Linked DNA regions of Homo sapiens: regions 1 and 2 are each reported to be linked to region 3. The links are microRNA targets in miRTarBase. Many come from high-throughput screens and were not tested one by one. Region 3 holds a microRNA gene; each other region holds the end of a gene's coding sequence.
The links. Region 3 holds the annotated microRNA hsa-miR-3120-3p (CACAGCAAGUGUAGACAGGCA, at 1,817-1,837, shown strand). A microRNA usually pairs through its seed, bases 2 to 8, with sites in the 3' UTR of a target mRNA and lowers its output. Matches are read on the target gene's strand: a 7mer-m8 pairs with bases 2 to 8, a 7mer-A1 pairs with bases 2 to 7 and ends in A, and an 8mer does both.

Region 1 (5,067 bases), not on the chromosome of region 3:
CCGAAGTCCAGCAAACAAATAATCACATACCCAGGAAGTGCTGGGAATGATGGAGTGACCAAGGTCTCAGAGCAACCCTACCCAGGGATATAAGGGGGTCCAGGCTCAGGGGGCTCCACACCTGCACCTCCATCTCATCTGCTCCTCTACCTGCTCCACCCTCAATCCACCAGAACCATGGGCTGCTGTGGCTGCTCTGGAGGCTGTGGCTCCGGCTGTGGGGGCTGTGGCTCCGGCTGTGGGGGCTGTGGCTCTGGCTGTGGGGGCTGTGGCTCCGGCTGTGGGGGCTGTGGCTCCGGCTGTGGGGGCTGTGGCTCCAGCTGCTGTGTGCCCATCTGCTGCTGCAAACCTGTGTGCTGCTGTGTGCCAGCCTGTTCCTGCTCCAGCTGTGGCTCCTGTGGGGGCTCCAAGGGGGGCTATGGCTCTTGTGGGGGTTCCAAGGGGGGCTGTGTCTCCTGTGGGGGTTCCAAGGGGGGCTGTGGCTCCTGTGGGGGCTCCAAGGGGGGCTGTGGCTCCTGTGGGGGTTCCAAGGGGGGCTGTGGCTCCTGTGGGGGCTCCAAAGGAGGCTGTGGCTCTTGTGGCTGCTCCCAGTGCAGCTGCTGTAAGCCCTGCTGCTTCTCTTCAGGCTGTGGGTCATCCTGCTGCCAGTCCAGCTGCTGTAAGCCCTGCTGCTCCTCCTCAGGTTGTGGGTCATCCTGCTGCCAGTCCAGCTGCTGCAAGCCCTACTGCTGCCAGTCCAGCTGCTGTAAGCCCTGCTGCTCCTCCTCAGGTTGTGGGTCATCCTGCTGCCAGTCCAGTTGCTGCAATCCCTGCTGCTCCCAGTCTAGTTGCTGTGTCCCTGTGTGCTGCCAGTGTAAGATCTGAGGCTCTGGACTCAGGCCTCATGTGAGTCCTGCTAATCCTGTCTTCCAAAGCTGTGACCTGTCCTTCATTGTTGAGCCCCAAATCATTGCTCAGGGTCCATTCCCTGCTGTAGAACGATGCCATATCTGGCTGCCTTTTCCTAAGAAGAGTCCACCCTAATTAATGTCCATTGTCTCTCCTAACAAATTCTCTCCCCAAGTCAACTGCAATTGCAGCTGAATCACCCCTCACCCACTAGCCTCGCCTTTGCTCATCTTTTCAGAGGCCTGAGCTCCTGAACCCACTTGCAGTCCTGTCTTTTCCAGCTGGAGCAGCTGGGCATAAGCGTCCCACCTGCAACAAGGTGGGCGTTTAAGAGGCTTCCTTGGAGTGGCTTTGCATGTCCAACACTCTGCTGTATCTTTTTTTTTTTTTTTTTTTTTTTGAGATGGAGTCTCGCACTGTCACCCAGGCTGGAGTGCAGTGGCACCATCTCGGCTCACTGCAAGCTCCGCCTCCCGGGTTCACTCCATTCTCCTGCCTCAGCCTCCCCAGTAGCTGGGACTACAGGTGCCCGCCACCACGCCCGGCTAATTTTTTTTTTATTATTATTAGTAGAGACAGGGTTTCACCATGTTAACCAGGATCACACTGCTTTATCTTAAACAGAAAGTTGCAAACTAATAAAAATACCATGCCGACAAACTGAAACACATATCTTGCTGATTTCTCTGTTGTTCGGTGTCATTACTATGGCTATGGCTATTGTTTTCTTATTCTTGTTATATTTCGGACTCCGTGAGTCTGATGGTGATGTTGCTGGAAGGTGCTAGGATGGGGCTGGCTGTCTCCGCTGCCTCTCGTCCGTCTCAAAAAAAGAAAAAAAAAAAGGTAAGAGTCAAACCTGGAGAAACTCTGTATAGACAGACTTGAAACAATCTGAACACCAATTTCTTAACTGGACTGATACACATCAAATATGTTTAAACTAGGAGTGAGTAATCATACGCACACACATACATACACAAATAATAATAGAGATACTATGCAAACTGTAAAATTTAGTTGCCTTTAGAGGATTCTAGGAATCAAGTCATTATTTCGAAGATGACTATATAAAGGAAAATAATCAGGCACTTATTCTATCTCTGATAGAGAAACTCTATCTTACGGTAACCAAAAAATTAGAGGAAGTATTCCAGTTTATAAATAAAGAAGAAATCGTAGAATTAGAAGCTAACCATTTTGTAACCCCTAATGAAATAATGGGGCTATCAAATTTACTGCATGCAGCCAAATCAGTGCTTAGAGAAAAATTTATAGCCTTAAATGCATATGTTGGAGTAAAAAAAAAAAAAAAGCTTAAGCTCATTTAGGCAAAAACCTATCTATAGGACTGGCAGCATTGCCACACAGAGCCCAGAATGGGGTGGTAATTAGGGCTATTTGTAGGCATCCTGGTTCTCCTCTCCTTCTGGGAACAGGTTGGATGGCAGGTGGTAGGGTGGCCCTTCCATGAGCCCTCTCTAAGTCAGGTGTGGCCATGTGATTTGCTTGCGTCAGTGGGAAGAAGTTTGAAGCACCTGCTGCAGTCTTCTGCATTCTCCGTTTCTTCTCCTACCATGACCACCAACATTCCAAGCAGTGGCTGCTGCTTCCGACTGAGTCCCAGAGTGACGAAGCACAGAGCAGAGTCACCAGCTGACGTGCAGTGGCCTGGGATATGAACAGGAAGTAAGCCTGTGTCGTGTGAAGTCACTGAAACGTGGGGGTGGCGCGTGTGAGCAGCGTAATTGGTCTATCCTGGTTGACCCAGAAACCTACCAGAACAAAAACATAGCATTGTGGGCCTGGTTTATTGGTCAGAGGGTGGGTGGAAAGGAAAGTTATTAGAGGTGAGAAAGGTAGTTATTATGTGTTTGGTAAGACTGTCCCAGATCGTGTATCCCTGAGGGAAGAGTTCAGAAAACACAATGCCACTCCCACGTGGGTCGTTGTGGCTGCATTTATCAAAGCATTACAAGAACAGGGTGAGCTCGAAAGAACCGGCTGATTTGCCAGCCAGGAGGAAAGTTCTAGAAAGCCTGGAGAAACCTGGGGAGCTACAGAGTTCTCAGTTCTGCCTGGTAAATGGTAAGACTTAGAAGGCTTTTGAGCAGCAAAGAACAATTGAAGCTCAAATGAAAGGAATTTTTTTTTTTTCTTTTTTTTATTTGAGACGGAGTCTCACTCTGTTGCCCAGGCTGGAGTGTAGTGGCACGATCTCGGCTCACTGCAAGCTCTGCCTCCCAGGTTCACACCATTCTCCTACCTCAGCCTCCCAAGTAGCTGGGACTACAGGCGCCCACCACCACGACTGGCTAATTTTTTTTTTCTGTATTTTTAGTAGAGATGAGGTTTCACCGTGTTAGCCAGGATGGTCTCGATCTTCTGACCTCATGATCCGCCTGCCTCAGCCTCCCAAAGTCCTGGGATTACAGGCATGAGCCACCGTGCTCGGCTAAAAGGAACCCTTTTTAAGGGTACACTTTGATGAGGTTCCATGAGAACAGACCACACTGAGGTAGGGAGTTGGTAGCTGCCTCCAGCCTGGCCAGTGGGGCAGGAGGGGCTGCTGTGGGGTCAGTGGGTCCGGAAGAAGACGCCGGAAACTTCTCCCCCCATGGCTCACTTGGCGTTCTCTTTGCTTGGCCTGTGGCTCCTGTGGGTAAATTCATGTCCTGCTGTGTGATGAAGAGGTTTCTGCAGGGAAGAGGGGGAGGTGTTTGGCCCAGGCAGGACCCAGTGACCTGCAGATCAAAGATGGCCTCACTACCACGGTAATGGGCACCAGAGAAGAGCCTGCCGCCAGCCATTCGTTGGAAACAGGCCCAACAGAACCAATGCTGTCTGTGCTTGTGGTGTGGGGGTAGAAGAGAAAGAGAAAGAAACCCAAAACCTTCCTTAATAATGAACAGATGTCACATGATTGTTAGCAAGATTTAAGACATAGTTGTAACTCTCCATGAAATCAACAAAGAGAAAATCACGTGTTGGACATTTTATGCATAATTTTTTGATAAAATCATAGGATTGCCTGCTGCAACATCCTTCATTTCACAGTTGGCCGTGACAGAATGACGCTGAAGGGAGTCGCGTAGCAAAAACAACTGAGCTCCTTCTCATCCTTCACGGACGCCTCTCTTTGAGGTCAACTCACCCCATTGGGAAGCCTCTATCTTGCCTCCTTGACCAGCTTCTCTTTCAGGGTGAACCGCCTGATCTTCACCGTGGTGGCCTTGCCTGGCTCCCAGCAGATGTTCTCCAATGTCACTTTCAGTGACATCACAGAATCCTACGTTTCTTTTCTTGCAAGCATTGCAATTTTACTTAAAATCTGCATCGTAAATATGACTGTGGAAAATGTATTTAAGAGAGCTGGTTCTGCAAAGACATGAAAGACATTTGGGAGGGGGTGTGTGGGAATAAGTGATATTGTTAAGTAAACGAGCTGCTTGAGTGGAGAACACTTTTGGAAGTGGTCAGCTTGGCCCCATCTGTGCTAAAAATACAAAAAAAGAAAAAATTAGCCAGATGTGGTGGTGGGCGCCTGTAGTCCCAGCTACTCGGGAGGCTGAGGCAGGAGAATGGTGTTAACCCAGGAGGCGGAGCTTGCAGTGAGCCGAGATGGTGCCACTGCACTCCAGCCTGGGTGACAGAGCAAGACTCTGTCTCAAAAAAAAAAGAAGTAGTCAGCTTGGGCTTGGCTCACTCCTGTAATCCCAGTACTTTGGGAGGTTAAGGAAGAAGGAACACTTTAGCTCAGGAGTTCAAGACCAACCTGGGTGACATAGCAAGACCCCGTCTCTGCAGAAAAATGAAAGAATTAGCTGGGCATGGTGGTGCACACCTGCAGTCCCAGCTAATGGGGAGGCTAAGGTGGAAGAATCTCTTGAGCCTGGGAGGTTGAGGCTACAGTGAGTTATGATTGCACTGCTACACTCCAGCCTGGGTGACAGAGTGAGACCCTGTCTCAAATAAATAAAAAATAAATAAATAAATGACATTGTCAGCTTGTTTACTTGTTTGTGATTATTTTCTTTTTTACCTTCCTCTTCTTGTTTTTAATAGAGATAGAGTCTCACTGTGTTGCCCAGGCTGGTCTCGAACTCCTGGGCTCAAGGGATCCTCCTGCCTCAGTCTCTCGAGTAGCTGGTACTACAGGCATGCACCACTGCCACTAGT
Region 2 (5,067 bases), not on the chromosome of region 3:
TTGCTTGAACCCAGGAGTGGAGGCTTCAGTGAGCTGAGATCATGCCACTGCACTCCAGGCTGGGGAACAAAGCAAGGCTCTGTCTCAAAAAAAAAAAAGTAAACATACTTACTCAAATTTGAAAATGCAGGTTTAAAATGCAAATAAATCGGGGTGGACTTAGAGGAGCTGACCCGTGAGAATTGCTTGAACCCAGGAGTGGAGGCTTCAGTGAGCCAAGATCGTGCCACTGCACTCCAGGCTGGGGAACAAAGCAAGACTGTCAAAAAAAAAAAAGTAAACTTACTTACTCAAATTTGGAAATTCAGATTTAAAATGCAAATAAATCGGGGTGGACTTAAGACTTTGTGGAGGATTTAGTGTAAGACACCTGTATGTCACAGTGTGCTCCCTTGAATCACAGTTTGAGTCATAAGGTTTATGACTCAGTTTGAGTTTATGACACAGTTTGAGTCATAAGGTTTACGAACCCAAGTGGTTCATCCACTGCTTGAATAGCAGAAATGTATGTCCTGGTCTTCGGAGTCGGGGGACACTTTAATAATGATCATTAAATTTGATCAGCCGACTTAAACTTGTTGTCTACGGAAACCAATTAACAGGTAAACTAGCATTTATCCAGCATTGAGAAGTCATAGCAATGGCTAGAAAGAAGAAATATTTAAGCCAAACGAAACGCAAAAGATTAATATTTTATTTTCAGAGCAGCTGATGCAATATTGAATCAGGTTTTCACAAATAAATATGACAGTGTCTGTTTGGTTACATCTCCATTTGATGAATGCCCATCTATAGGAACTGTAATAACTTTCTGAGAGGCTAATGATTAGAATGTGTTAAATAAAATTTCCCTGGTTCCCTTTTTGAAGAAGCATTGTGATAATTAAGAAAAAAAAAAAGCTTATCACTTGGAGGGGAAACAACCTAGAATGCCCCAGTTTCCTTTTTTTTTCTTTTTTTTTTTTTTAAGGAATGCACCTTTTTAGGACAAGTCTATAAAACATCTTTATTTATTTGTTACATATGATGTTTAAATATAACTTTGCTTTCAAGCTTCAAACTTTTTTTAAACCCCTGGTAAAATAAGACTTTTGGTTCACCTTAACAAAAACTGACCTAGGAAGAAACATTTTTAGCAAAATGTTATTATAAAATTCACTAGAAAATACGGTCCTCTTGTTGCCAAAATGTTACATAAAATCCTTATTAAAAATACACACGTTACAAAAGAAAAATTATGAATATGCTATACATAGTGCTTTAATATGGACCAAGGGACTTGCATTCCGGGAAAATACAGTTAAGCACACTAGATATTATGATGTCAACTTATAATAGTGCAAACCTGAATAAATTACATCCTGATATGGAAGGCATGCAATTCATCTGCTGAGAATAGAACATAACGAAGCCAGAACAGGAAGCAATCACAACCACTATTTAAAAATGTTTTCCTTTTTATTACATTAATTTTTTTCAAAAATACTTTTCTTTACAATAGAACTCCTAGAAAATATTTACAACCTTCCTCTAATAAAATATAACAGCAGTTAAATATATTTGAAAATAAGATGGGTTTTTCCATAAAATATATCTGTTAACTTTTTATATACAAGCTTTCTCAAAGAGGTCTAAATTCACTAATGAAAAACCATCTGATAGTAAACAGTAACCGAGTTGAGACATTAACCATTAGGAAGAAAAGATCTTTGGGGTGGGGTAAGGGGAGAAGCTAAAACACAACACATACATGCAGGCAGAATTATTTCAGAAAAAAAAATAAGTGCAACATTGTACTAGGAAGTCCATTCTTTAAGTTGATAGTCAAGAAATACTAATTCAGGAATTTGAACTGTCTCGTTAAGGAGGAGTTCTTTGGTTGTTTCAAGTCAAAAATCCTTATGCTATACTGCATGGAAAATTATAAGTAAGCTGTGCATTCTATTTTTGCCATGGCAACTGAGTTTATTTTTTAATGTTTAAAACTGGAACAGCTGGGCAAATCTCTAAACAGAGGCAATACATTTGCTTTATAAACACTTTTCTGGATGTTTGCTCCTTTGATAGATAAGCTTCCATAGACCCAATAGCAGCACCCTTCTAGGCTTACCCTCAGACACTAAGTGGAGGGCAGTAGTCCCTGGGAGAGACGATCAGCCAAGGATATGACAGCTGTAATGGTTCGGCCACAAAGTTGATGCACACTGCCCAGGCAGTTCCTGACTCACAACTGCTTGGATAAAACAGGATAGCATAACCTTTCTGAAATGGCAGCAAATGAAACTTTTTTCCCCCTCTAAACAAAAGATGTAGGAAAACGCCAAGACCTCTTTGAAAATAGAATGATGGAAAAGAATTTTATTTTTTTTTCTGTCCATGGCTTTCCTGAAGTTCAGAGACCACTGTCTGTGTGGGGCTGCTGTGGCTCACAGCCAGTTCCCCCCCATGAGTGTGTGCTAAATGCTTTTGCAGAGTCAAAGACGTCAGGTCCTACTCTCATGCTTCTGCTGATATTCTCTCTCATGTCAAGCTATGAATGTTGTCAGCAAAGTGGCCCAGCGTGATAGGCACACCTACGTGGAGCTGGGAACCAGCATACCTGGGGTGGGCGATGCCTGAAAACACCGGCCCAGGAAATCACGCTGCATTAACTCCAAAAGGGGAGTTGCATGAAGCAGGATCCTCTCTGTACTGGCGCTGTGTCCCAGCCTGACTTTTGCCCTAACGGTGGGATGGGTCAGTCTGACTCAGCTCAGAAGCCTGGGGCTAAATGGCATTTTTGAAGGATTACAGGTTTATTACCTTCAAGTACAAACAGCAACCCTGCTGACAGGGACAGGAGGAAGCAGAGCAAAGTCATGGAGGTTGGAGAAGTCTAGAAGTGCTTTGGTAAGTGACTTGTGATGAATACATTCATTGTTTGAATGCAAACATTATAGCTAAGGTGTATCTGAAGCCATTTTTGTTGGCCTTCAATGCTATTTGTCTTGTATTTGCTATCGTATGTGTTAGAAAACTATTTCTTATAGCTAACATCAAGGTAAACTTCAGTCCAGCGGATGTGAATTACAGCAAAATCCCAGTGAATGCGGTTTCACAGTACTTCCAAGTGGCACAAAGTAATTTCAGAACTCCACTAATCATTAACAGCGTTGCAAAAAAGAATAGGCTTTTCTGATTTGTTTTTTGGGCAATAGAACACTTTCTGGCATTCTAGGTACTTCAATATGTGTCCTTCAATCACCCTGAAGTGAAAGCAGTCCTGGCAACTTAATATTTGCCTCCAGATGGGTCTCTAGTCAGTTCATGCTGAAACACAGCTCTGCCACCCACAACTTGGAGCTGACCAGCCCCCAGGGAACATGGAAGAGGACAGGACACACCTGTTCTAGAAAACCAGGTCCTCAGTAAACACTGCTGGGAATGAAAGCCTAAAATTATACAGTACTCCATTCCTGTGAACGGGCCAAAGGATGACGGGCAACACAGGGGAAACCTGTTTTCACATTTGGTCATCTCCTCACATGTCGTGTGAGCTGGAGGAGAGCCGTGTAACACGAGGGCTTGCTTTGCCCCTGGAAAGCTGCCCCTAGCATAGTATCTCCAGGCAAAGATGCCATGCTCACTGCAAACTATGGAATGAGGTCAGAACAGAATCAAAGTAACGCTTGATGGGAAAAGTTGGCCCCAAGACCCCAGTACTAAGAGGGTCGCCTGCGTCTCACACACACACACTCACAGCAAGCTTTGGGATAAAAGGCAACCGGGATGGTTGACATCTGAATGCAATGGAACATGAAGGTCAGCTTCAGTCCCTACTGGGAATGATTTCATGAGAAGGTAGCCCAGATGAAACACCTCTTAAAGATAGTTGTGCCAATTATTTATTCCCCCAACCCCCCACAAAAACAAATTTTTTTAAATAAAAGGAAAAGAAATAGGATTTTTTTTTCTAAACCTGAATAAAATGACCACTTTTAAAACAGGTAGTTTAAAAGGGTTACAAAACAAGCAGGCAGTCCAGGTTTCCTGATTAATGAAGATGGAGGCCGTGGGTTTTCACTGTCTCTAAGTGACACACAGGGCTTTATAGTTCTGCGTCACCCTGAAGCAAGACTGAATCTTGATCATCCAAGAGAAGATCGGTGTCCACAACTTCAGCCTCTTCCATGACACCTCCCAACTGCTGGACGACGTCGTCGTCGAGGATGTCCACATCCTTGATGGGTTTGATCAGACTCAGCTGGTCCAGGGGCAGCAGCCCCGGCGCCCCCACGGGCCCCGTAGTCCTCTCAATCGTGGCTGCCATCTCAGCTGCAAAAGCCGCCTTCTGAGCCTTTTGCCTCTGTTGTTCCTCCTGCTGCCTGTGAGTTTTCATGTGTGCATTTCGGCTTTTGATCTTGAAGAAGACTCTAAAAATAAAGAAAGAGAGGTGTGTAGAATTTAGAAGGAGATCTGAGTTCTTGGAAATCCAGGTGTCCTACGGGGAATGGGGGTGTGTGGTCTGACAAAGTCCCTGGCTGCTCGGCTTCTAGGACCTCCTTCCCCTGTGACCTGTCACCTCTCTTCCTTCCTCTCCAAGCATTACAAGGAAAGGGATGGGGACAGAACACACCTACTGTGCCTCAGGCTTCCTTCCTGTGACAATGGAGGAGGAATTCTCAAAGGCCTCCTGTCCACCTGGAGTCTGGAGCACAGGCTCTTTCTCCTCTTTCAGCCTCCCCCTTCTCCTCATCACTGACCATGCCCTCTCCACTGGAGAATCTTCTAAATCATGCTAACAAGCCCTGATGGTCCCCATCATGAAACAACCCACCATCTGCCTCTGGCCTCTGTCCCTGTTCCTCCACAGTTGAAAGTTGTTGGTTTTGTTGTTGTTGTTGTTGTTGTTTTAAATAGAGACAGGGTGTCTCTCTATTGCCCAGGCTGGAGTGCACTGGTGTGATCACAGCTCACCATAACCTTGAACTCCTGGGCTCAAGTGATCCTCCCACCTGAGCCTCTCGATTAGCTAGGACTACAGGTACATACCACCATGCCTGGCTAATTTTTAAATATTTTGTAGAG
Region 3 (5,074 bases):
TTGGAGTCTGAAGGACGGGTGTAGTCTCCTTAATGTTCTGGCTAGGTCATTGTCTCATTCTGGGAGCTGTCAAGCACTCTCCTGAGCCTTGCAGGGTCCAGTAGAATAATTCCATACGTGAACTCTCATAGGCAGCATTTGCAACAGGTGGTACAAGGCATTTAAGATTGGGTAGAACGATGTCGATATTCTGTGAGTAATTTTTATATTGTCTTCCTGTTTATATTCTACATTTTGTAAGTATTGTTTAGGACTTTATTTGCTAGTAATGGGACTTTTATTTAAGGCAAAAATCTGCATCGTGCAATGTATCTTGCAGAAGCAGAGATGAATTTTAGCAGATGACATATTGCCATAAGACAAGATTGTTTAAATGAGAGAAATTTAACTTTAATCATATTTGTGCTTTGTAGTTTTGCCCCATCATTCAGTTTTTTAATTAAAGAAACTATAATGTCAGGTTTGGTTAAAATATCATTGTCAGAAAATTTGAAACTCACTGGGATCTTAGCTTTAAGACTGAGACTTTCATTTTAAAAATAAAATAGCTGAATGAAAAATAGTTTGCTTTAGTTAAGAATACATACATAAAGTGTTTAATTGTTAAATGTGAAAAAAGTTTTGAGTAGCCTTGTGTTACATTTTTTAAGCTTGACCAGAATCTAAGAAAGATGAAAATTAATTTCAAATACTGAAGCTAAAACATGTTAATGAACTAAATAAAAGTTGACACATTTCTAATTTTATCCATCTTCCCACCTTTTACCCTTAAGTATTTAAAGTATTCATAGACAAAAGCCATCCCTTATCATTTCACTCCAGTTAACAGTGCATAAACTGAAGTTTGGATATTTTCTCAAAAGATGTGTCAAAATATACATTTCAAGTGCATTAACCACTTTCCTTATGCTTCTGAAGATAAATGAATTGCCTGAACATCTCAAGATCTTGAAAGTTTATAGTGATGGAAGCATAGGTTGCAAGTGAATGTGTTGGCCTTGTAAATTCTACTCCTAGAACTGTAGCATAAGCACCTTCTTAATTAAAGAATGACGCAGTCATAAATTTATGTATACCATGACGCGTGGAAGTATCAAAAATTTCAACTTTCCATATGTCAAAAGAGGAGAAACTATTATTTTAATATAGTTGAACACTAGTTGGAAATAGTAGTCTTTTCACTGTGTTTTGCCCAGACCCAGACTGGCAGAGTTAACCCAGACTGGCAGAGTTAACTCAAAGCACTTGATCCTTTGGAATACTCTTTTTCTCCCTTTTCTTTTCTCTGTCTTTCCACCCTATCCCCTTCCAAAAAAAAAAAAAAAAAAAAAAAATCATGACATAGAAAACCATACTTAGTTTATGGACAAGAATTCTTAGAATAATTTATTCTTTGTTAAGCATCAGACTGAAGTTATATTGTTTTGTTATATTGAGTTTTTATATCAATATAGGGTGCTGCAAAGCTGTGTACAATAAAGGTCAAGGGTAGTGATTTGCTGACAACAATTAGGAAAAGAGAACTATAGAATGCACAGGAACATTTTCAGAAATGGGTTTTATTATATTTCATAGGCACCACTCACTTTACTTTTGGTGGGTTTTAATACTTGAATCAAAATAAAATAATACATGAGTTAAGTATTAAACCAACAGATTAAAACCCCAGGCCCCCGAGCCCCTCATTTTGGTTGTAGCTCTTGGTGTAGATGCTATGGTGTGAGGGCTGCTTTCTTTCAATGGCTGGTTGTCATTCAGGCTGGGTTGTCATGTGACTGCCTGTCTGTGCCTGCTGTACAGGTGAGCGGATGTTCTGCACAGCAAGTGTAGACAGGCAGACACATGACAACTCTGTCCAGCCAGGCCCTTGGTTCCTTCAGGTTTCCTTTGCTCATAGACAGATACAATCAGCCTGTTTTCCAGATTTGGTGATTTTGGAGAGTAAGGGGAAAGGGAGAAAAATACACAATATAATTAAACATTAAAACATTATGGAACTAAAAACAAGTTAGACTTTTGACTTTATTCAGAAAGTACATTTATACATTTGTTCCAAATGTGCTAACATGGATAATTTGCGTAACAGAAAACTCACATTAAAATTTTAAGGAAAAAAAGAGATTAAACACAAGGTTTATTCTTAAGTCCAATTCATATTATTACTGGCCCACATGTAGTCAGAGTTCAGCGTAATTGAACCAGATGTTTTTCCTCTTTGCAAAAAACTGCATATTTTAATACTGAAGTTAAAGATAAAAACTATGTTTATGCATGTTTCTTTTAGTAGATAAGTACCATAACCTTGTCCATGAAAAAGAAAATTATCATTTACATGGAAACAGCAGCCCTTTTCAAAATAATTAATGAGCCTAATTTATTTGGCAACCCAAGTTGCTGACTTTGGTATTTGATGCTCTGATAATAGGATCCTACAAGGGAATATGTTTTTACCAATTATATGTGAAACAACAGGAACCTATTTAAATGTCTCATTTTCCTTTTAAATGCAAAGTTTATAACTGTGGATGTGAAATCAAATTAAAGGCAGTTGTGAGCTTAAGTTATCCACCTCTTAATTAACTATAGGGCCATGCTGTGAATCAAAAGGGTACAAACTGGAAGGCTGTTACTCACAGTGATGCTCAGAATGTGTTTTGGATATAGTTAGTGCAATATAGTTACAAAATAGTACTTAAGAAAAGGCAGAAAAGGCAAATTCATTTCATATCCAAAAAATTAAAACCAGATCCTTTGAAAATTTTTCTTATAATTTATATGAGCTAATAGTGTTAAATATGCAGATATAAAATTTAATTCTGGTGAGTTGAGAGTAATTCTATTTTAATATCAATTATCAATTCACATCTTTAGAAGTATTAAGCAAATTCCCCTCCCCTTTTAAAAACAAAAATATCCAAATAGTCAAAATTCCAGTAAGTAGGACTTCTTAAAAAACACAGCACCAAAAAAACACAGTATTGTCCAAGGATTGTATAATTAGACATTTTCTCAAAGAACTTTAAGAAAAACAAACAGTTTGTGATTTATCTTTAATTGTAAAATTCTGAGAAAATAGCAAATAGAAACTTAATGGAAAGCAAAATAGTTTTAGATACTGAGAAAATTACAATTTTCTACAAATCTGGACTTTTATGCAGTGATTAGGTAAGGTAATGTTTTAACAAAAGCTAATAAGTGCCATTTTCTGTGTATTTATGTAATTTCAAGAAAACAAATTTCCGATTCTGTTTCGGCCATCACTTTCGAGTAAAGGAACTTTTTTTTTTTCTTGACAGAATCAAAAACATGAGTAAACTTGGCTGTTATTTAAATAATTACAAGGTTAGAGTATGCCAAAAACCAGTGCCTTAAAATACTATTGTGTTATTGTTGCTGCATTCAGTGCAACAGAAAGTAATTATAGAGTGATTCACTTACAAAGAGTATATTGGTGGAAATTAAAAATTACTATAATTCTTTATAACTTTTCCTCTCTCTCCCATAAATAATTTGATCCAGTTAACTCTGCTCAATTAAAGGAATGATGCATGCAACCTGAAAAAATAAAAAGAAATATTTGTGAGTTTGTATGTTATGCTTTAATATAAAACAGTTTTATTAAGGCAAGATATAAAAATTTTTTGAGCCAGAAAAACCACAACAGTTTTTCAGGGGAAAAAAAAAATCTTGCTGAAAACAATTGTTCTATTCATAAGGCTTTTGGACAATTTATGTTTCTGATAGATTTTTAAAACACACTTACAGTAACTATGTGACATATGCACACTTCATTGTTATGTTGAACCTGCCCCTAAACTTGTTAAAAAGATGAAAGACTGAAAACCATATTGACCTTTTTTTAATCTCCCAAATTATAGGTTGAATATTAGTTTATTATTACTTAAAATACTAGCTAAAACATAAAAGAGCTATTTGTATTATTATCATACCATGTAATTTTTAGTGTGGTTATTACACCTTGTTTTCTTTTTGTCTTTTATTTCTTAAGGAAAAAAATGTAAGAAAAGAATTGTCTTCTAAGTCTTCTGTAGTGAAATTAAACCAAAGCAACTCCAGGAAACTGGCTGTCACGCTAAGTCAAAAAATTCAAAATGAAGATTTAATTATTTTTCCTAATTTACTTCGTTATCTCTAACTATTAAAACTGATAAAAATTATTTGTAAGAGACCTTTGAAAATGAGTAAATATTTATTTCTACTTAATTTACAGAACATGAAAGTAAGAAGGGATTTGAAGTAAGAAAGTTTCTATCTTAACTCAGGAATTTCCTGTCTCAGGTTAAAGCCTGACCTTCTAGTTATTTTAAGCCAGGATTTCTGAGTGATGGTCTCTTAGTTATTATTTTGACGTTATTGTGATGGGTGGGCTATTCTCCTTAGAGCAGAGTAAAGTGCATTGTTTATAAAGAGCAGATCCCTTACAGAGTAAGTGAAAGCTTTGGCGTCTCTTTACCGAGCATGGATGCTTGTGGATGAGTGAATTTTTTCACATTACCAAGTTGTACTTTTTATATCTTATAACAGCTTAAGACTTCAACCAAAAAAGTGGGGAGAATTCTTTCGTTAGGATTTTTATGCCTAAACTGTTTCCCACAGAGTGAAATACATGGGTGGTCTGTAGGCGAGAGGTGGGGGTAGATAGTATATTTTGGTCTTTTACAAACATAAACATATTATCTGGGCCGAAAGCCCGAATGCCAAGCAGGAAGGATATTAAGCCTATTGACTAACTACAGGAAAGTGATCAGTGTGAAACTTTGTCCTATAGTAAACAGTCTTTCTTTGATTTTGAGATCTGTGGCCTAAAAGAAAAATGAGTTTGAAAATTTAAGTCCACCGTTTTAGATTGATCCTTTTCCAGTTAAGAAATTGTGGTGTTGAAGCTAAGGCTCTGAACTTCCTTTCTCTTAGATGGTGGAAAAGTCCTTTTAACCCAGTACCTAGTCCAATTTATCAATCATTCACATGCTAAAATGAAAAATAATTATGAAATTTCTATGAAGTGTAGTTTGGACAGACCCTGAAACAATTTTCTCTTCATGACCACATATAA

Region 1: the mRNA of KRTAP5-4 is a reported target of hsa-miR-3120-3p. Seed matches in the 3' UTR shown: 7mer-A1 at 969-975 and 7mer-A1 at 1,257-1,263.
Region 2: the mRNA of TRERF1 is a reported target of hsa-miR-3120-3p. Seed matches in the 3' UTR shown: 7mer-m8 at 3,738-3,744, 8mer at 3,068-3,075 and 7mer-m8 at 2,815-2,821.

Annotation. Positions count from the first base shown.
Region 1 is chr11:1,617,204-1,622,270 of GRCh38, reverse strand. It overlaps KRTAP5-4 (keratin associated protein 5-4), which reads left to right and starts at 133. Exons shown (of 1, transcript NM_001347674.1): 1 at 133-1,313. The coding sequence starts at 178. The coding sequence ends at 864. RefSeq lists an enhancer at 1,890-3,089.
Region 2 is chr6:42,224,258-42,229,324 of GRCh38, forward strand. It overlaps TRERF1 (transcriptional regulating factor 1), which reads right to left. Exons shown (of 18, transcript NM_001395490.1): 18 at 674-4,412. The coding sequence ends at 4,088. LOC105375061 (a long non-coding RNA gene) reads left to right here and starts at 482. Exons shown (of 4, transcript XR_001744122.2): 1 at 482-602. RefSeq lists an enhancer at 250-329.
Region 3 is chr1:172,137,042-172,142,115 of GRCh38, forward strand. MIR3120 (microRNA 3120) reads left to right here and starts at 1,767; the gene lies at 1,767-1,847. The region is part of intron 14 of DNM3 (dynamin 3); the gene reads left to right. It overlaps DNM3OS (DNM3 opposite strand/antisense RNA), which reads right to left. Exons shown (of 4, transcript NR_103486.1): 4 at 1-3,555. MIR214 (microRNA 214) reads right to left here and starts at 1,866; the gene lies at 1,757-1,866.